Homo sapiens: one gene and its partners. The protein of the gene in region 3 interacts with the protein of the main gene of each other region in a pairwise test. Each region holds a gene or a part of one and is shown on either strand. Other genes may lie near its edges.

Region 1 (7,130 bases), on a different chromosome or scaffold from region 3:
ACCTCAGCCTCCCCAAGTGCTGGGATTACAGGTGTGAGCCACTGCGCCTGGCCCAAACCAGGGCTTCTTGATGAAATCATGGATTCCAACTGTGACCTAGAAATGCCCAAGGTGAGTTTAGCCGTAATGTTGGTAACTGGGCTGGACATAGTGGCTCCCATCTATAATCCCAGCATTTTGGGAGGCCGAGGCGGGATGCTCACTTGAGCCCAGGAGTTCACAATAAGCCTGAGCAACATAGCAAACCCTGTCTTTTATACAAAAGTAAAAATAAATTAGCCAGGTGTGACAGTGCGTGCCCGTAGTTGGAGGTGCTTGGGAGGCTGAGGTGGAAGGCTCAGTTGCACCCAGAAGGATGAGGCTGCAGTGTTGGGCAACCCAGCCTGGGCAACACAGTGAGACCCTACCTCTAAAAAACATTTTTTAAGTAGTAACTGAAAGGCGGGTAATAGTGGTAGGCAAGGCGGGGATCATTATATTATTCTACTTTTATTTAAAATATCCTTTAGAATTGTTACAAAAAGACTACTTATCTCAATTTTTACCTATCAACCACTACTTTATTTCAAATACTGAGCCCATGTATCAGCTTCCAAACCTGAACTCTTGTGGCAGAAACTGCAGAAGAAAATTTCAGGAGCCTGTTTCTTGTGCCAAGCGGGAAGCTAGGCCCTGTGGCCTGAGTCATGCAGCACGTTTGCAACTTCAGCTTCTTGGACTGGTTAGGCTGACAGGTGACCACACAGCCTCTTGTTCTTGTTTTGTAAATGACTAGGAGAGACCAGAGACCAGACTTCCCCGCTTCCCATTACTGATCTTTGCTGTGGACCAGCCGCCTCCTTCATTGTCCTGTGCATCTGTCCTAACTCAGACTAGATGGCACGACGACCCCGTGACGTAGTCCGTGTGGAACGCCAAACATACCTTTCCCAATAGGAAAAGACCACCTTGGCTAATCGGAGCACAGTAACTGTGCATTCACCCTCAGAGAGAAAGATGCTGGAATTGTGTTAAGTTTCCCTAAACTTCATCTATAGAAATGATCCCAAACTGCTACATTTCAGAACACCGACTTCTGTTCTTTGGAATCTGTGCTTCCTGGGCGGCCTGTCCTCAAACTTTGCACTTGAATAATCTCTCTTTAAAGTAGATTCTGACTCTTGATTATTTTAGGTTAACAATGTCTTCAGGGAAATATATTCCACACTGAATTCCTAACTTAAAAAACAAAGAAAAGCTATAAAATGTGAAAAAAAAAAAAAAAAAGGTCAGGCGCGGTGGCTCATGCCTGTATTCCCAGCACTTTGGGAAGCCAAGGAGGGTGGATCACTTGAGGTCAGGAGTTCAACAGCCTGGACAACATAGTGAAACCCTGTCTCTACTAAAAACACAAAAATTAGCTTGGCATGGTGGTGCATGCCTGTGATCCCAGCCAATTTTTTAAAAATTGGCCAGGTGTGATGGTGTGCACCGGTAGTCCCATCTACTTAGGACGCTGAGGTGGGAAGGCCGCTTGAGGCTGCAGTGAGCCTTGATTCCAACACTGCACTCCAGCCTGGGAGACAGAGAGAAATCCTGTCACAAAACAAAACAAAACAAAAAAGAAAGAAGGGGGAAGAAAAGAAAAAGGAAAGAATCAGAAAAAGAAGAAAAAAAGAAAAGAAAAGAAGGGAGGGAGGGAGTAGGGCATCACTTTGTCTAAATAATTGTAACCACAAAAAAGTGGAGACAGGTGAAGTAAATAGATGAGTATGGCCAGAGCATGGGGCAGCAGCAGGAAAGGAAAGAACAGATATGTATGGTTTGGACTAGATGAGTGTTTCTGAGCCTTTTTTTGATAAATGCCCTCCCTCCGTTCTGATACACACTTTAGGACACAGTGTGGGAATCATGTCATCTCTGAACCTCCTTCAACCAAGATTTTGTCCAGCATTAGATTCTATTTTTGCATTGTTAAGCAGGTTTTTGTTTTGCACCATAAAACTGTAATATTCAGTATGCTTGTTCAAACACCTCTCCTACTTTCTAAACCCTACTTCTAGCCTCCTTAAGAAGCAGTGGATCAGAGGAGTCCCCGAATTTAAACCTCCAGAGTTTCGCGTAATTGTCTCATTCCACTGCAGGGGAGAAAATATAATTTCTCTTCTTTCTCTCTTTATTAGTTGAGACATTCTCCTGAAAACAAAATTCAGAGCAACAGGAGAAACAAGCAGAAGTTTATTAGCACTTGCTGTACCCATCGTGTGAGAGGCCTCAGTTCAGAAGTATTTCTCTCTCAAGGCATGTTGTGAACAGCACAAGGTCAGACATAACCAGGTCCACACACGTTTATGTCTTTCCACAGGGTGGGAATATATTGATGCTATTTCAATTATAAAAGCCACGAGCTACGAGGAGTTGCCTCGAGACAATTCCCTTCAGTACTACTTGTTAACTTGGTAGAGCCATGGGCAAAGGCTCAAGCCAGTCCACGTGTCAGTCAATACTGCAAACTATACATCATAGTGTACTTAAAATACAAACGCTATGGTTTAAACATTCCCCATCAAACAAAGTAACATTGGACATCAAGAGAAAGAGGATAGGAAAAGGGGTTAATGGATCAATCCAAGGAAAGCAATGACGGGAACAAGGAGTGTATTCCAGCCTGATCCAGACAGAAGTCATTGTCTTCCAAGGAAGTCCTTGATGTGAGCAGATCCTTAGGCAGCAGATGCAGGGTGCTAAGCACAAGTGACAGCAAGGTGGGGTCTATCAAAATGCCAGTGTTGAATTGGTCAAATCCCGCCCTTTTTAAGGTCACAGTCCTCTGGTGAGGACTGATAGTGAGTGCCTGGTCCTGTCTTTATCTGGCTGAGTGCTGTCTCTATTAACTAGGTGCACATCCAGTCCCCGTTGCTATGATGCCTTTTGAAATGTAAGATTAAATCTTTTTCTAAGATGTAGGTACTTATGCGACGGGTGCTTTATACAAAGCAGTAGCGTAGGGGCCTTAATTAAATAGTATTTTAACAAAAGGCCATAAATCCTATATGATGACAAGCCAAAAAACAGAGCATCTTCAGACTTCTAAAATGCAGGAGCCAGGCGCCGTGGCTCAGGGCTGTAATCTCAGCACTTTGGGAGGCCGAGGCGGGTGGATTGCTTGAGGTCAGGAGTTCGAGACCAGCCTGGCCAACTGGTGAAACCCCGTCTCTACTCAACATACAAAATCAGCCGGGCGTGGTGGCGCACGCCTGTAATCCCAGCTACTTGGGAGGCTGAGGCAAGAGAATCGCTTGAACCCGGGAGGCGGAGGTTACAGCGAGCCGAGATCGCGCCACTGCACTCCAGCCTGGGCGACAGAGCGAGACTCCGTCTCAAAAAAAAAAACAAAGTGCTCGACAGGAACTTTCTGTAAGCCAAAGAGTATCGCCATCGCACCTTCACCTTCACCTTGGGCAGCCTGGTGCCGTCTTCCCTCAGCCCGCGATTAACGAGCGGAAGGCCGCACTGACCCATTTCAGATCCCTTATTTCCTTCCTAAAACCACTCAAGAGTTTGGGCACAGTGGCCTCCCTGTGTGAGGAACTTGCTTCCCACTCACCAAAAGACAAACCCTTCGCCCATCCCTGGCCGCGCACCCGGCCGGTCACCCGCGCTGCCACCCACACCACCCTCCTGTCCATAAAGAGCCCGCGTTTGGGACGCCTCGCAGGCTGAAGGGAGGCCTGGGCGTCCGCGATCCGTCTGCCCTTTCTCCCCTCGCGGGCTTCCTCTTTCCTCACTTTCTCCCGCCACTACTCTTCCTCTTCCTTTTCCGCGAACCCAGCCCACTTCCCGTTTCAGGACCTCGGCTCGGCCCCAGTCCCCCGGACCAGGCCGGGTCACGTGGGTCCAGGGTCACGTGCCGCTGCGGGTCACGTGCCGCTGCGGGTCACGTGTCGGCCTGCATCACGCGTGAGGGGGCGCGCGGTGCTGGAAGCTGCCGCACCTGCGGGGAGCCGAGCCGCCGGCGCTCGACGCGCGCGCTCTCGCGAGACCCGCGGGATCACGTGACGCCCGGGCGCGGCGCAGCTCACGTGACAAGCGCTGCCGGCCGCGGTGTCTTCTTCGTGCCGGCGTCGCAGTGGCCGGGCCTCTTGCGTCTGGTAACGCCGCTGTCTCTAACGCCAGCCCTTGGCGCCCGCGCCCCGCCACCGCAGCGCCCGGCAGTCCGCGGCCCAACCGCCGCCCGCGCCCCCGCTCCCCGCACCGTACCCGGCCGCCTCGCGCCATGGCGGCCCCCGGCAGCGCCCGGCGACCCCTGCTGCTGCTACTGCTGTTGCTGCTGCTCGGTGAGGGGGTCGAGGCGGGGCCTGGGAGCGGCGGGACCGGGCGGAGCCGAGGTCCCTGGGTCTTGAGGGCGGGGGACTGCCGGGTCGTTGTCCCGCGGGTCGCCCCGCACCCACTGCTCCTGGTCCCGGCCGGCTCTGCCCGCGGGCGGGTGTTTCTCTCGGGGTCGTAGGGTCGGAGCGGAGCTCAATGGCAGGTGCTTGGGGGACCAGGAGGTCTCATCCCAGGACCTGGCTCCTCTAAGGTCTGTCTCACTGAACTCAGTTTTTCTGTGGTGGTGAGTGCGAAAGGGAACTTCCGATGGCTTGCTCGGCGGTCTGGTGCTTTCAGGTCGTTAAGTTTCCTGGCAAGTTGAGGCGGTGAGATCTAGACGAGGCTGCGCCGCCGAAGGTGGCAGGGACGTCTGTGGTCTCAGCTCCCGGGTGGGTGACCTAGATCAAGCTCTTCCCAACATGGATTTCACCCAGGACAGGGAGAAGCCGGTGCGAGCATTCCCCACCTTTGTACTTGAACCTTTCTCCTCTTTCAGCGGTGTGGAGGAGATGCGAGTGTATTTATGTTATTGTGAATTCACATGTATGTTAAAATAATTTTTAAAGTTATCTTTGGGATTTCACAAGATTCCGTAGTAGACAAGATGAGGGAAAGCTGGCCTCAGACTCACGGTGGCAATGTTCATGTCTAGTAAGTAGTTTAAAGAGCGCCGTTCCTGTAGGCCGAAATGCGGGACCAGGGAACACGTGGGGAAGCACCCTTCTCTTCTGTCAGTTTATAGAGCTCAGATGGGCAGTAGGTGCTCAATATTGTATTGACTAGTGAATTTCGTTCTCATTTATTGTCTTAATAAGAGGATGTGTGCTGTCTCTTTAAGACAGTCCGGATTGCCCCCCGCCAACACTATTCTTTCACCTCCTCCCCCCGCCGCCCTCCCCCGTAATATGAGAAGATTATCTTAAATGCCAGGATCTGAAAGGTGATGTAGAATCAAGCTGGGGGAGTGTGTGTGAGTTAAGTAGATATAGAAATACACTCCTGTACACATCTGCCTTGACTTCTTTAAATCCCTCAGTCCCATCCAGCTGTAAAACTCTGTTACTGTGAGTGAATGGATCTTGGCTTCCCTTTTTTGTTTTGCCTGTTGTGTAAAATGAATTCTTTGAACTGCCTGAATAGCCACAGAGATGAACTTATTCCAATAGTAAGCCTGAAGCCTTGCTCAGCTCCTGCGACAGGGTCAGGTGTAGTTAATGAAAGGAGTTGCAGAAACAAGTTTTGTCATGTCACAGCAACTGCATTGTTCTTTGTTACAGATGCTCACAAGCCTCATAACTTTGATGTTTTGTTTCATGTTTTAAAAACTCACTTCAGGCCGGGAGCAGTGGCTCACGCCTTTAATCCCAACACTTTGGGTGGCCGAGGCAGATGGATCATGGCGTCAGGAGTTCGAGACCAGCCTGGCCAATATGGCGAAACCCGGTCTCTACAAAAATACAAAAATTAGCTGGGCATGGTGGCGCACGCCTGTAATCCCAGCTACTTGGTAGGCTGAGGCAGAAGAATTGCTTGAACCCGGGAAGCAGAGGTTGCAGTGAGCTGAGATCAAGCCACTGCACTCCAGCCTGGGCAACTGAGGGAGACTCCGTCTCAAAACAAAAAAAAAATTAACTTTAAAAATGAAGAGAAAAAATCCATAACTCCCTAATATTGTGATTGGAATATTGCTTGTGTAATCAGTCTTCTAAGATCTGTTCCATTATATCTTTTATGTTTACAATCTTAACTTTTTTTTTTTGAGGCGGAGTTGCTCTGTGCCCAGGCTGGAGTGCAGTGGCACAACCTCGGCTCACTACAACTTCTGCCTCCTGGGTTCGAGCAATTCTTCTGCCTCAGCTTCCTGAGTAGCTGGGATTACAGGCACCCGCCACTATGCTAGGCTAATTTATGTATTTTTGGTAGAGACTAGGTTTAACTATGTTGGTTAGACTGGTCTCGATCTCCCGACCTCGTGATCCGCCTCCCTCTGCCTCCCAAAGTGCTGGGAGTACGGGTTTGAGCCACCGTACTTGGCCCAAGAATTTTTTTTTTTTTTTTTTGAGGCAGAGTCTCACTCTGTCACCCAGGCTGGAGTGCAGTGGCGTGATCTCCGTTCACTGCAGCCTCCGCCTCTTGTGTTCAAGCAGTTCTCCTGCCTCAGCCTCCCTAGTAGCTGGGACTACAGGTGCGCGCCACCATGCCTGGCTAATTTTTGTAGTTTTAGTAGAGATGGGGTTTCACCATGCTGGCCAGGCTGGTCTCGAACTGACCTCGTGATCCACCTGCCTCAGACTCCCAAAGTGCTGGGATTACAGCCATGAGCCACCGTGCCTAGCCAAAATCCAACTTTTAAAAAAGGCCTTTTAACAACTTGCATTTAAAGATATTTAAAATGTTTATTTTAATGTGCGATTTCACCAAAAATCCTTTTTTCTTAAAAAAAGAAACTGCTCAATTACAAATTTCCACTATATTAATAATTAGGCATTGTTTAAAGCTACTGTGTTTGAATACTTAGAAAGCTCAAACATGAACTGAAACTTGTCCTGATAGATAGGATTAGCTGTGATTGCGTAATGTGACCCTTTAAACCATTGATGTCAGCAGGATGACCGCCTTACCCTTTCCACTTGAACAACTGTCACTTAGGAGGTTTGAACAATTTTATACTCGGCTGGGTGCAGTGGTTCACGCCTGTAATCTCAGCACTTTGGGAGGCCCAGGTGGGCGGATCAGCTGAAGTCAGGGGTTTGAGACCAGCCTGGCCAATGTGGTGAAACCCC
Region 2 (7,452 bases), on a different chromosome or scaffold from region 3:
CACAGGAGGTGGAGGTTGCAGTAAGCTGAGATCACACCATTGCACTCCAGCCTGTGTGACACAGCGAGACTCTGTCTCAAAAAAAAAAAAATTAGAATGGTCCTGATGTGGAGCTAATGGACCCTATGGCCTGTGTGTGAGTAGGAGGTATGCTACCATCTGAAATTTAGTGTGTTTTAAGTCTACTAGTGTTTAAAACTATCAAAACAATACTAATGGCTTTCGCTTATTGAGCATATACTATGCCCTGGGACTGCTGCTAGGCACTTAGTAGACATCATGTCTTTGAATCTTCTCAACAACCTAGAATATAAATATCAGTATTTTCACAAGTTTTATGATTGAGGAAACTGATACATTAAACTAACCTGCCCATAGTCACACAGCTAGGTCATCAGGAAAGCTTGAACTTGGTTATGAAATCTGTTCCATGGCTTCAACCGAAAACCTACATGTAATCTGAGGAAAGGTGGAAAATAAAGTATCTGCCAAAGAGAGTGAAAGTGACTTCCCCCAGGCCACCTCACCTGTACCAGAATTGTTTGTTGTCTGACAACTTTGTGTTGGATAATTCTTAAGAAAGGATATAGGCTTCAAGTTTCTCAATCTTCTTTTTCTTTCTTTCTTTTTTTTTTTTTTTTGAGATGGAATCTTGCTCTGTTGCCCAGGCTGGAGTGCAGTGGTATGATCTCGGCTCACTGTAACCTCCACCTCCTGGGTTCAAGTGATTCTCTTGCCTCAGCCTCCCCAGTAACTGGGATTACAGGCGTGTGCTAACACACCTGGCTTATTTTTGTATTTTTAGTAGAGATGGGGTTTTGCCATGTTGGCCAGCCTGGTCTCGAACCCCTGACCTCAAGTGATCTGCCCACCTCCGCCTCCCAAAGTGCTGGGATTCAGGCATGAGCCACCATGCCCGGCCTTGTTTCTCAATTGGGCTGCCAGACAAAACAGAAGGTGCCCAGTTAAATTAGAGTTTCAGTCAAACAATTTTTCAGGTAAAAGAATGTTTTAGGGCCGGGAGCAGTGGCTCATGCCTGTAATCCCAACACTTTGGAAGGCCGAGGCAGGCGGATCACAAAGTCAGGAGTTTGAGACCAGCCTGACCAACATGGTGAAACCCTGTCTCTACTAAAAATACAAAAATTAGCTGGGCGTGGCGGCACATGCCTGTAATCCCAGCTACTCCGGAGGCTTTGGCAGGAGAATCATTTGAACCCAGGAGGTGGAGGTTGCAGTAAGCCGAGATAGCGCCACTGCACTCCAGCCTGGGAGACAGAGCAAGACTCCGTCTCAAAAAAAAAAAAAAAAAAAAAAAGTTTTAGTATAAGCATGTCCCATTCAATACATGGGCTGTACTTGTACTTGTACTAAAAAGTTACCCATTATTTACCTGAAATTCAGATTTAATTGAGTGTCGTGTGTTTTTATTTGCCAAATCTGCCAACATGGGGAGCAGAGGTCAGCAAGGTTCCAAGTTGCCCCTGCCTCTTGTTATCAAGAGTTTAGGGTCTTAATCTGTTGCTAAAAAAATTTCACACATTTCTTATTCAGAGGCTGGTATTCCTGGCAGCTCATTCCTGAGGCCTAAAATAGTTGTTTAAGCAGAGCAACAGTTTCAATCCTTGGAGGCTACTATAGCAAAGTACCAAAGTCTGGGTGGCTTATAAACAAGAGACATTTATTTCTCACTGCTCTGAAGGCTGGAAGTTCACAATCAGGGTGCCAGGGTGGTCTGGTTCCAGTGAAGGCCCCCTTCCATGTTGCAGGCTGCCAACTTCTCATTGTATCCTCACATGGTGGAAAGAGGGTAAGAGAGCTCTCTGGGAGTTATTCTTATTTTATTTTATTTTATTTTATTTTATTTTATTTTATTTATTTTATTTTATTTTATTTTATTATTTTATTTTATTTTATTTTAATGAGCCAGGGTCTCACTTTGTTGCCCAGGCTAGAGTGCAGTGGTGCAATCTCAGCTCACTGCAGCCTCCACTGCCTGGGCTCAAGAGATCCTCCTGCCTCAGCCTCCCATGTAGCTGGGACTACAGGCATGTGCCACTATGCCCGGCTAACTTTTGTATTTTTAGTAGAGAAGAGGTTTCGCCATGTTGCCCAGGCTGGTCTCGAACTCCTAGACTCAAGCAATCCACCCACCTTGGCCTCCCAAAGTGGTGGGATTATAGGTGTGAGCCACTGGGATCTCTTTTATAAGGGCACTAATCCCATTTAGGAGGGCTTCACCTTCATGACCTAATCACCTCCCAAAAACCCCATGCCTAATCCCATCACATTGGGGGTTAGGATTTTAGAGGAACAGACATTCAGTCCATTGCAGCAAGTAATTGGGAAAGCATAGGAGAGGCTGCGCGTGGATTTTTTTAACCCAACCACTGCATGTTCCTTGAGGGCCAAGTCCTGATGCTATGGAGAGATGCTAGGATCCCAGCCCTGGAGGAACACATGATGTGATGGAGGAAGCATCTATCACACAAAGACAAGCAAAACTCTGCTGGCCCAGCCAAAAATGCCAGAGGTGGAAGGAATTTGAAGATTCACAGAGACGCCCCTAGATGGCACTCTTAAACAAAAATCCCAGTGGAAACCCTAACTCAGCTTTCCAAAGCAACTTCCATTTAGGGAATGATGATTGGAAGGCTGTAATCTAAGGAAACACACACACACACACACACACACACACAATCTTTTCCTGGGTGGGGAACCCAGCATTTTGCAGCTGAACAAAGTGCATGACGCCAGACAAGATTGGCTAAAACTTAAGAATTTAGGGATTCTTGTCTGTCCTATCCCCACCATTAGCTCTTCTTTCTGCTATTGTGGAATTACAGCAGGATTCTGTGGTTTATCATATCATTGTCGTGATCATCATCATAAATCATCATCCCAAGCAAATATTTTTGAGCCCCTACTCTGTGCCTCAATAGGTGCTAAGTTCTCGACAGCCACAGCCACACTATTGCACCAGTCCTCACTACAACCCTGTGATTGCTTCTTTTTTTTTTTTTTTTTTTTTGAGACAGGGTCTCACTCTGTTGCCCAGGCTGGAGTGCAGTGTCTTCACTGCAACTTCTACTTCCCAGGTTCAAGCGATACTTCTGCCTCAGCCTCCCGAGTAGCTGGGATTACAGGTGCGCACCACCATGCCTGGCTAGTTTTTATATTTTTAGTAGAGATGGGGTTTCACCATGTTGGCCAGGCTGGTCTGGAACTCCTGGCCTCAAGTGATCTGCCCACCTCAGCCTCCCAAAGTGCTGGGATTATAGGTGTGAGCCACCGCACCCTGCCAGCTTTTTGTTATCTAAAGACTTATTTTCCAGGTTGCTATGGCCACAGGCAAAGAGGAGAGGTCGGTCAACACAGGTCCCTGTCTGGAAAGTGGCTGAGAACTGTGCAACAGCAGACCAATGGTTGGGCTTATCCCTCTCTCTAATTTATGGTTGAAGCCATGGTTCAGAGAGGTTACTTAGTCACACAGTAAGTTGCCATCATGCTCTATAGCAGTGGTTCTCACCTCGGGACGATGGGGCCTTCCAGGGGACATTTGGCAATATTTTGAGACACAACTGGAGGTGGGGGGGGGCGGTTCTTGTAACTGGCATCTAATGGGTAGAGGCTAGGATATTGCTAAACATTCTACAATCCACAGCTCAGAAACAGAATTATTCCGCCCCAAATGTCAATAGCATACTATTCAGAAACCTTACTCTATAGGGCAGATTTGGGGCCAGGGGAAACAGGGGCTCCTGCTCCGACTTGGATCCATGCAAACCGAGGAATTTGGATTGATTTATCTTGTCTCTCTCAGCCTGGACTTTTTCATGTGTAAAATGGACATCCAATCCATCTGAAAGGATCTCACTGGCTTATGACATTCGCATTTGAGCAGTCATGGTTAAAAACTTCCAGCCAGGGTGATACTTCATCACGTGTGTGTCTTGAGCGCCAGAGACGTTCCAGAGCAGCTGGTTTTAGGCATACAGGAGGGGAAACCCTGACACCCTTGGAAAACTCATTCTCGGCTGCCAGTCTGCCTGTCTTGAAGGTGGTCTGAGCTTTCTCACTCCAAGCCAGTCGTGTGGGAAGGGACACTCTCTGAGCCTCAGTTTCCTCAGCTGTCAACCTCTCAGGGCTTGTTCTAGTGGCTCCGAAAGCCAGTGGGAGCGAGCGCGCTTTGCAAAGCCTTGGGCGCCGGGCCTTGGCGCGCCTTTGCCGGATCCTTCCGGCCACGGGCGGGGCGAGCCCAGAGGAGAAGAGCCGAGGGGCGGTGCCCGGGCCAGGGGGCGGAGGCAGGCGGCTCTGGCTCCCTCTCGGGACGCTCTTTCCTTCTTCCTCTTGTTCCTCCTCCTGCCTCTCTTCGCTTCGCCTGCAAACGCGGTGGGGGCTGCTCGGCGGTCAGGAGCAGGTGAGAGCTCGGAGCTTGGGGGTGGGGGTCCGGGTGCCCCGGGTGGCTAGACCCCTCTCGCCGGGCGGGGACAGAGGAGGAGCGCGGGGGCGACGGCGTGAGCGCGCTATCGGGGTCCCACGCCCGTAGCTTTCTGCCCCGGGGTTAGTGTAAGGGGCGTCTCCTGCTTATGAGTCGCCGGGACGGGGCTGGGAGCGCACGAGGAGACACGATTCCTCCCCACCCCTAAATGCACACTCACCCCGCCACCCCCCAACACACACACACATACACACACACACTACCACTAGATTAGGTAAAATGGTAGCTAGCACCACCACACCCCGAGACTGTGCCCCTTTCTGGGGAACCTGGGGAAGACGTCGAGGCAAACCTCCCTAGGATTATTGAAAACGGGCGCCTTCCTCACCACCCAGCCCCTCTTCTCCACCGAGGTCCCCTTCCCCATCGCTGCAGAGAGATCTGCAAGTATCAAAGGGGGCTTCTTTACCCCCAAATTAATAACTAAGTACTCGACTCCCCTCTGAGTTCCCATTATTCAGTCTCTGTGCCTTCTGGGACGCGGACCCCCTCTCCACCTGCATTTCACTCCCTTCCTCCTCTCCTTGGGTCTCCCTGGCTTTTGAACGCTGAAAGGCTGGGCCCGGATGGGGAGGGGCGGCCAGTGTGAGCTCGAGGCGCCCTGTAGCTCCCATCCCCCAACCAGAGATGTGACCCCTCCTCCCAGCTTGAACTTTCGAGGTAGCCGTTTTCCCCTGGAGGTTCGGGGGTGGGAGGGCCAGGAGATTTATTTGGAGCCTTGGAAGGGGAAAGGGTTAGCTGGTGTTGGCCTGGCCCAGTCCCCCAGGCGTGAAGAAGGCGGGGCACTCCTTGGCCGCGCCGGGTTCTCGCTTTCCCTTCTCGGGAGACAGCTCCGTGCCTGGGGAGGCCCCTCCGAGGAGTGAGTGACCAGGGGGTCTGGGAATTGGTGGCCAGGTAGACGCATTTGAAGGCTGTGGCCGATGGCATTCGCCCCACGCACTCTCTCATCGGACTCCCCAAACCGGTCTGGGTGGCACTTGAGGCTCCCAGGCCAAAGGAGACCTGTAAGGGGAACTCCGCTTGTTTCTGCTTGCTGCAGAGATGAGATTATGGGAACTGAGTGCTGGGAACATCCCAAGTTCAAGACCTACGCCAGAGGCAGCTTCAAAGAGAGAATGTGGGGTGGTGGGATTAGTCCCCTCCTCAACTTTCCCCTCCAAAGGGTTTCTTGTTTTACAAAAGGGAAGTAGCAGAGGATGTCTAGCTGGGATGATTAAAATGTGCTTTAATTTGCATACTAGACCCTGTACAGCTTAGTAGTAGATAAAATTACCCCCTATATGATAAATAAATGTGAGGATCTCTCAATTAATTTTGGCCACGTGGACACAATCTTTTAAGCATTTGTACTGTAGGTCAGGTCAGTTTAAAGGGAGAAATGGAAAAGATATCTCTGTGTCCAGCCAGTTCTGGGAAATATAAAATAAGAATGATTTTTTTTTTATATTTGAAAACTCAACAAGGGTTAAAAAATATATCTAATTTAACCAATTGCCTTTATTAAAAATAAGTAAAAATTGTATGAGATTGGGACACCCCTCAAAATTCCAGGCAGTTTAGTTAGAGTATAATTACTGTGGTGAGGTCTGCCCCCGAGGTGCAGTTCTCCTTAGCAGGGATAGACTTACCCACAAGTAAGTAGATGATGATGTATGGAATGATGGAATTGGGAGCCAACCTGTACAGTAATAAAGAAGAGAAACAGGTCAAGGCTACTGTTGTACAAGGAAAGCTTTCTAGGGAGAATAAAAGGCAATGAGATTTGAAATAGTGTGTTCAGCTTTCTTGCTTTCTGTATATTTTCAGCATTTTGTCAAGCTAAAAAATAAACATAAGCTGTCAGAGATAATACTATTAACATTTTATCATCTTTTTTTAAAAGTATCATACACATCTTTTCACATCACTAAACAGTCACACTATCATTTTAATGACTGAATTTATCATTATTTAACCAATTTTCTCCTAATGGAAATACAGTTAGCTACTTTCCAATGTTTTGCTAGTCATTATATGTTATAAACAGGGATGCAATGCACAGCCTTTTAGTACATTTTGAGATACCTGTTGGATTATTTCCATCATGTTCCTGGAATATAAATTCCTGGATTGAAGTGTGTGCAATCTGAAATTGTTGTGAATATTGCCAGGTTACCCTCCGTCTGCATGCCCACCATCAAGGTATGAGGATGGTAGAAGCTCTCGTCGAACCAGATGGATGAAGACCACTAACGGCTTTTGTTTCCTCTGGTAACAGCAAGAGACAGAGCGACATGAGAGATTGGACCGCGGGCTGCACTGGAGAATTTACTGGTAGGATAATTCATCCCTAAAGAGATTGAAGTGAGCTTCAGAATGGCAAAAGAGGAGCCCCAGAGTATCTCAAGGGACTTGCAGGAACTGCAGAAGAAGCTGTCTCTGCTGATAGACTCCTTCCAGAATAACTCAAAGGTCAGTTTCCAATCACTATGTATAATGGAAAATCCCAATATAACACTAGCATAAACAAGATAGAAAGTTATTTCTTTCTCCAGTAGAAGGAATTTGGAGGTAAGTCAAGAATCTTTCTGGCTTACCGCCCTGCCATGTCTATGCTGTGACCTTCAAACTCCTTGTCTGAGATGACTGCAAGAGCATCAGCCATTGTATCCATCTTTCAGGCAACAGGATTTGAGGAGGGGGGAAGAGAGAAGTGCAAGCCACCTACAATTTAAGGAGACTTCTGGGAGTCGCACACAATACTTCCAATTACATCCCTTAAGCCAACATTGAGTCATTTGCCACTAATGGCAAATGCAATTCTTTAGCTGGATAAAGAAGTCTGTGCAACAGATATCATCCTTTTTTTGGTTTTGTTTGGTTTTGTTGTGAATTTTGCCCTATCTGTTACCCTGAAAATGAGAGACAAAAGCCTACTTCAAGATTTGAGTTCATTGTTCCACTAGGAATCC
Region 3 (7,333 bases):
TAAGGAAGGCATAGGGTAGGGCGGTGAAAGCATCCCCAGTGGCTGGGCTGGAGGTGAGGAGACAGGAGACACCCGGGGGATCCCACAGGGTAAATGCAGACAAGAAGGACACTGGGCCTAGGTCAGGCCCCTCTATTCCTTCCTAGGAGGAAGACAGTCCTGGAGCCCCAGGGCTCTTGCTCACAGCTCACCTGGGAAAAACATAGAGCTGTTTAGACTTCAGGAGCAACTTTTCTTTTTCTCTTTCCTTGGTCTACTAAACCCAGAGCAAGAGTTTGTGTTTTCCCCCAGGACTCCCACAGCAAAGCCAGACCAGGTAGATCCAACCCACACCTGCCCGCCTCCCCAGGAAAGCCAGTCTTGCTTCTGCCACTGCCTTTCTCCAAAGCCACTTCTTCGAAGGTACCCATCAGGATGGGAGAGGGTATCCCCACCCGTGAACACTCTGCCCACCAGACCCAGGGGCTCCATGACTCTGCTCCAGAAACTGGCACATCCAATCAGTCCTTGCCTGGTCCAACACAGGAGAAGGAGCATGCTGGGGCTACCCTTGGGTGACTCAGCAGATTCTGAGCTATAAAACGCTGAGTCAGAAGTAGGGTGCTCACACGTTAGTTAATCTGCTGACACTTTACCCCCAAAAGAGGAAGAAGGTTGACTGGCCACAGACCCTCTGAGAACTCACTCATGGTGGGGAAGGTCGGAGGCCCAGGCTTGGCAACCCCTCTCCCTGCCACCATCCACCACCACCACTACCAAGCAGTTTTGGCTCTTCCACAGCCACTGTCAAAGATCAGACCATCAGGGAGATACCAGGACCCTACTCCAGCTGGCTGCTGCCCTAGCGAGCTGCTGCCCTAGCGAGCTGCTGCCCTAGCGCCTCTCTCTGAAGGCAGCTCCACAGCTGGCCTGCCTCATAGGCCAAGGGAAGCCTGTGGGGAGGGAGAGAGGGCAGAGTTGGGTCGGAAGAAAACCCCAGGCAACTCCCTAGAGTATAAGAAAGAAGGCCTTTTCCACAGCCCTCTAGGAGGCAGCTGGAGACTCAGGGAGTGGGCAGCACTGCAAGATTTCAGATCTGGAGGGAAGTCAGATGTCTTTTGGGGACATCTCCTCCCACTCCTAATAGATGAGGAAACTGTGGCCCAGGATAGGGTCAAACGGCCAGGTAGGGTTCACCTCCACTTGTACCAGGCCAGACTCAACACAACCAGCTGAGATCCCAGGCTGGCCCTCCCTGCTCATCCTTCTCTTGCCTTCGGTCTTCGCAATGCAATCATAGGGCTCTGACGCCGCCTTCCAGAGGGGAAAGCAACAGGGCCAATAGGAAACAAAAAAGTGGCAGGGAGAAGTGAACCTTGACAAACATGGAGGGTGGCGGGGTGCAGTGGGGAAAGGAACTAGGGCTCTGTAGATAACGCGCAGAGATGGGCCAGTTGTCCTCAGGATCCCACAGGTGGTGAGGCAGCTGGGCAGGCAGAGAACACCCTAGCCAGGGTGCCCATCCCCCCTTCTTGGTGACCCAGTGCTTTGTTGGCATTGTGTAGGGTGGGGCCCTGTATGCCCCTCTTCTAAGGCATTAACCCCACCTCATGCTGCGACTCTACCCAGGGATGGCACTCAGCACTCCCTGTGGCAGTGAGTAAATTAGTTATTTTTAGTTATTCCATTTAGGGTTCTTTTGGCCGAGGATTTTAGTAATGGAATATAATCATCATATGTAAAAGTATTATACGTATTTTCTTCCCAAAGTCCTTTCCCACACATATTATTTCATGTAGCTGTGTAATCCCGGGTAAGCAATTTATTTAACTTCAGGCCTCAGTTTCCTTATCTGTAAAATGGACATAATCGTAAGGCCTACTTCATGAGACTAATGTAAGGATTAAATGAAATAAGGGAAGCAGGTTGCTTAACATAGTGCCTGACACATAGAAAGCATTTTTTAAAATGTTAGAAAGTAGAGATAATATTTTTCATCTTCATACCAATTCTATGGCGCAGAGAGGTTAAACTGCGAGCCCAAATGTGCACAACAAGGAGCACTGGTCAGCCCAGAGCCCCCATCAGCGCACCGATGCTTCCCCTTCCCTCCCAGAAGCACAGAAAGGGCGGCTGGCCTGCAGGATTTGGCAGAGCTTGGCTGAGGAGCCACAGCAGACGGGTAGCAAAAAGGCACCAACATGGGTGGAAAGAGAATGTCCAGTTTCTATGAGATCCCTAACGCCGTCCTCCCTGTGGGTCTCAGCAGAGGGCTCTGCGGGGGAGCCCTCTGGAAGGAGGGAGATGGGCTTCCCCAGCCACCCCTAGCCCTCTTCCTTTCCCACTTCTTCCCTCTCTGCCCTCACCCAGCACCCAGGGAAGGGGCGCCTGGGGGGCAGGGGATCCCTCAGAACAACCGTGTGTGTGTGCGTGTGTGTGTGTGTGTGTGTTTGGGGATAGGAGGCGACCAGCGCCGCGGGCGCGCGGAGGGGACACTGTCGTGGGGCAACTGGGCGGAGGGCGACAGGCAGTGTGCCGTGACAGATAACCCGGGCGGCGCGGCAGGTCTGTGCAGCCGGCAGTGGCGGGCCGTCGGCACCCCCAGGTGGCGCCCGGGCGGGCATCGGGTCTCAGAGGCACCCAGGAATGCCCAGGAGCCCGGGCCCGCGTGGGGCCTGCCGCCGCCAACCGCTGTTTTCGAGTAAACACTCCACCCGCTCCGCGGGGAAGCGCCGCTCGCGGGGAGCGTCCTGGAGCAGCTGACGGCGCCCGCCCCGCAGCCGCGCACCCGCCCCGCGCCGCCCAGCGTCCCGGGGTACCTGCGAGCCCTCCCATGGCCGCGGTCCCCGGCTGTCGGTAGACCACCGTCCAGACGAGGAAGATGGAGAAGCCGGCCACGGAGCTGATGCCGGAGTAGGCGGCGCGGAGGCCGAGCTGCAGCCTGGACGGGGCCATGGGGCTGCGGCGCCGGGCGGGCCGAGGGCGAGCGCGGCCGAGAGTCACAGGTGCAGGGCCCGAAGCCGCCAGCCGGAGCCGCGGGAGCCGCCAGAGCAGCCGGCGCCCCGCGCTCCGCCCCCGGCCCGCCCCCAGCGCCGCCCGCACAGCGCCCTCCCCGGCCGGAGGCCGCCCGCGCCCGGAACCGCAGACGCCACCGCCGCTTTGCGAAGCTGCCGTGTCGTTTGGGGGAATGCTGCTAAAAAGGCGGATTCCTGGGCCCATCCCCAGACCCGCCGTGTCCGGATTGTTGGACCTTGGAAGGGACCGGAAATATGCCTTTATACGAGCGAACCGCGAGGATTAAAAATCTTTACCTCTGAGTACGATGCGTATTTTCGTTTAAAATTAAAATTAAAATTTCTTGTTAAAAATTAATAGGTAAAACTTAAGAAATATTAGAGTACGCTGTGAATAGAATTCCTTCCGCCCGTCCTTCTATCAACCAGGTTCCCTCCCACCATATCGCAGAGGATTTCTCCACACACTAAAGTCTGGGAACCCCTGCGACCATCACCTTCTGACTGCAAACATTCTATACATTCTATCCTCACGCACAGCTCCCCACAAATCCCTACTTTTTTTTTTTTAAACAGAGTCTCACTCTGTTGCCCGGGCAGGAGTACAGTGGCGCCATCATAGCTCCGCATCCTCCAACACCTGGATTCAAGCAATGCTCTCACCTCAGCCTTCCAAGCAGCCAGGACTACAGGTGTGTGCCACCACGCCTGGCTAGTATTTTTTGTTATTTATTTTTTGTAGAGATAGGGTCTCGCTATATTGCCCAGGCTGGTCCCCAACTCCTGGCCTCAAGCTGTCTTCCCACCTCGGCCTCCCAAAGCGCTGGAATTACAGGCTTGAGCCACTGCAACGGACCTCACCTTTCCTTTTATCAGCACAAGCCTTATCCTCCCAAACCCCTCACCCTGACCCTCGGGATCATACCATTGTAAGGAAGAGACAGATCTGTAGCAGGAGGGCACTGAGCTCCCACGTGAGCCCAGCTTCCGGCCGGGAGCTGGAGGGAAAATCCCAGCACAATAACAAGGGCTCTGCCACAGCACTAAGGATCCACATGGGGAGGCCCATCATATACCTGCACAAAACATAACCAATACCCCTTGCATTAGTTTTTTTTGTGTGTGTGCTGCCGTAACAAATTACCACAAATTTACTGATTTAAAATAACACAAACTTATTATTATTTTACAGTTCTGTAGGTCAGGAATCCAAATAATGGTCTCACTGGGCTAAAATCAAGGGGACATCAGGGTTGCCTTGTTTCTGGAGGCTCTAGGGGAAAATCAGTTTCCTTGACTTTTTTTTTTTTTTTGAGACGGAGTCTTGCTCTGTCACCCAGGCTAGAGTGCAGTGGCGTGATCTCAGCTCACTGCAATCTCTGCCTCCTGGGTTCAGGTGATTCTCCTGCATCAGCCTCCCGAGAAGTTGGGATTACACGCTTCCACCACCACACCCAGCTAATTTTTGTATTTTTAGTAAAGATGGGGTTTCACCATGTTGGCCAGGCTGGTCTCGAACTCCTGACCTCAGGTGATCCGCCCACCTCAGCCTCCCAAAGTGCTGGGATTACAGGTGTGAGCCCACCGTGCCCGGCCGCCTTTTCCAGCTTCTAGAGTGAGGCTACCCACATGCCTTAACTCCCTCTTCCTCCTTTTCCCTTCTAAGGACCCCTGTGATTGAGGGGATAGTCCAGGATAATCTCCCCATCGCAAGATCCTTAATTTTATCACATCAGCAAAATAAATCCCTTTGCCGTGGAAGGTGACATATTCATAGGTTCTGGGATGAGGACGTGGACATCTTTGGGGGCCATTATTATCCCACCCACCACACCCCCTCTGGAACATAAACTTCATGAGCAGGGACAGTGCCAGTTTTGTTCACATCAACATCTAAAAGCATGTCTGGCATATAATGACCCCTTAATAAATGTTTGTTGAATAGGTGAGTGTGAGTGAATGAAGGTAAGAATAAAATAAAAACAAAAGCAATTATACACAAGGAATCTAGACAGGGTGTGCTTAACTGCCAAACAAGGGATGTAAACCAGTGTTAAGCACATTTGCCTCACTCTAGAATAATCTGGGAGCTTCTTTAAAAATAAAAAAATAAACCCAGCCCCACCCCTGCCTATTAAATTTTGAATCTTGGAGTGTGTATTTTAATGAGAAGTGATGTCAAGGCTGTGAGCTCAGCAGCAGCCCTCCTTTAGGAGCTGCCGGTGGAGAGTGAGTGCTGGTCCTGTGGAGGAGGGAGCAAGCCCCGTGGTCCGGAGTGCATTTCCATGGATGGCTTCAGAGCTGGCCAGGATGGACAGTACTCCAGGCAGTGGGAACCGCACGTGTGATGGCGCAGAGGGAAGAAATAAAGCGGCCGCTTTGGGAAACTGTAAGTCGTTTGTGGCTGGAATGTCAAGTTTGAAGGTAGAGTAGCGGGTTTGGAGATTAGAAAGGTTCTGAACATAAAGGGCCTTGCATGCTCTGTTAAGAAGGCTGTCCCCCTCCCCTTGGGGCTGGGGGAGAAAACTCACAATTCTGTGTTTTAGAACTATGGCCAGAGTAATAGAGTGAAGGCGAACTGCCTGTGAAACACTAGAAGCAGAGAGATGAGTTGGACAAATTTCACCCCACAGTGCTTTAATTACCAGGTCTTTAAAATGGAGACTGCAGTAACACCTACTTCAAAGTGTTGTGATGAGGAGTGCCTGGAAGAGTGCCTAGCACATGGTAGATACTCAATAAATGTCAGGAAGTAGAATTAGTAGCAGCAGAAGGCTGCCATGGCAAGAGAGGATGAGGGGCTTCAGAGCTGGTCCAGGCAGAAGCAGAGAGAATGGAAGAGACGAAACTGCTTCAAGAGCTATTTCAGCTATCTGAACCTAAAGGTCAGGGGAGAATTCATTAGCTGAGCAGACAGAAGGAGGAGAGCAAAAATATTATGAGTGGACATATTAGGAGTATGGGAGAGCAGTGAGCAAGCTTGCTGTGCTGGAAAGTGAGATTGCGCAAGAAAAGAAAGAGAAATAATTATGTAACAGTAGTACTAGACCAGGTTGTACAAGGCTAAGGCCAGGCTTAAACATTTTTTAAATTGTGGAAACAATGAAGAGCTATTGCAGAGCATTAGACTCAGGTGGGGTCAGAGGCCTAGCTTCACCATTTGCTGTGACCCTGGGCAAGTGCCCCTAACTCACAGATGTCCAATCCAATTGACTTTCTGCCTGGAAGAAAATATTCCATATCTGCACCCTCCATAATGGTGGCCACTAATCACAGGTGGCTATTGAATACTTGATATGTGACTAGTGTGACTGAAGAACTGAATTTTTAATTGTATTTAATTTAAATTAATTTAAATTTAATGTATTTAAGTTTAGTGTATTTAATTTAAATTAATTTAAATTTAATTTAATTAATTTAAGTAGCTGCACATGACTAGTGGCTACTGTGTTAGCACAGCTAGACCCAGGACTCCTGTCCCTCCATCTGTACACAGGGAATGATGATGAAACATCACAGGCTTGTTACAAAGATCGAGATATATTGAGATAATACACTCAAAGTGCTCAACACAGTAATTCAACAAATTATTGCTGCTGCTGTTGAAATTGTTATTGTTTTTATTGAACAGGGATTGCATGACATACGCCAAGTCTTAGGAAGATTAGTTAGACTATAATATCCAGTTAGATTTGATGGGGGAAAATTGTAGAGGATAAAGCATTCACAAGGTTATTTCAGTGGTAAGGTGTGAGAGAATTAAGATCTTATCCAGTGAAAGACCTTGAGAATGGGAAAGAATGGAATGATTGTTGAGCCATAAAGCACATGGGTGTGCACCACTCATACACATCTTCTCATATCAGCTTCCTTCCAAGGTATTCTCAGAGAGTACACTCCCAACCCAGCCCAGGACAGACACTACTACGACCCCTACAAGATGCACAGCCATTCTCCCTGCCTGCGCCAGAAACTACTAGTGCTCCACAACACACACCAACATTTGTGTGTCTCTTTCTGGGCACAGTACCTCCCAAATTTGAACTACACTTCCCAGCTTCCTTGCAGTCAAACGGATGCCATGGGATCAGGTTCTGAACAATGGAATGAAGGCAGAAGCAATGTGCGCCATTTCTAGGCTGGGCTCATTTAAAAATCTTCCATACAACCTGCATTCCCTCTTCCCATTCTGTGACAATTTTAGAGGCCATATGTACCACATAATGGAAAGAACCTAGGCTTGAATGAATGGATGGAGCAGAGCTACCCCTGTCCCCTAGACCCTCACTGGACTATAGAATATGAGTGAGAAGTGTCAGTGGCTTTGTTACAGCTCAGTT

What was found.
Region 1: the proteins of SLC48A1 (region 3) and LAMP1 interact in binary tests that used the Homo sapiens proteins (3 or more experiments, as listed by UniProt).
Region 2: the proteins of SLC48A1 (region 3) and LDAF1 interact in binary tests that used the Homo sapiens proteins (3 or more experiments, as listed by UniProt).

The regions. Positions count from the first base shown.
Region 1 is NC_000013.11:113,293,180-113,300,309, forward strand, and holds the start of LAMP1 (lysosome-associated membrane glycoprotein 1 precursor), read left to right. Parts: upstream 1-4,059; 5' UTR 4,060-4,255; coding exon 4,256-4,316; intron 4,317-4,459; exon of another isoform or gene 4,460-4,558; intron 4,559-7,130. UniProt on the Homo sapiens protein: Lysosomal membrane glycoprotein which plays an important role in lysosome biogenesis, lysosomal pH regulation, autophagy and cholesterol homeostasis.
Region 2 is NC_000016.10:21,154,327-21,161,778, forward strand, and holds the start of LDAF1 (lipid droplet assembly factor 1), read left to right. Parts: upstream 1-4,347; 5' UTR 4,348-4,420; intron 4,421-4,998; coding exon of another isoform or gene 4,999-5,115; exon of another isoform or gene 5,116-5,133; intron 5,134-6,651; exon of another isoform or gene 6,652-6,758; 5' UTR 6,759-6,856; coding exon 6,857-6,952; intron 6,953-7,452. Other genes in the region: DNAH3 (dynein axonemal heavy chain 3), read right to left, coding at 4,999-5,115. UniProt on the Homo sapiens protein: Plays an important role in the formation of lipid droplets (LD) which are storage organelles at the center of lipid and energy homeostasis. In association with BSCL2/seipin, defines the sites of LD formation in the endoplasmic reticulum.
Region 3 is NC_000012.12:47,768,906-47,776,238, reverse strand, and holds the start of SLC48A1 (heme transporter HRG1), read right to left. Parts: upstream 3,002-7,333; 5' UTR 2,935-3,001; coding exon 2,799-2,934; intron 1-2,798. UniProt on the Homo sapiens protein: Heme transporter that regulates intracellular heme availability through the endosomal or lysosomal compartment. In macrophages of the reticuloendothelial system, is the heme transporter for heme-iron recycling.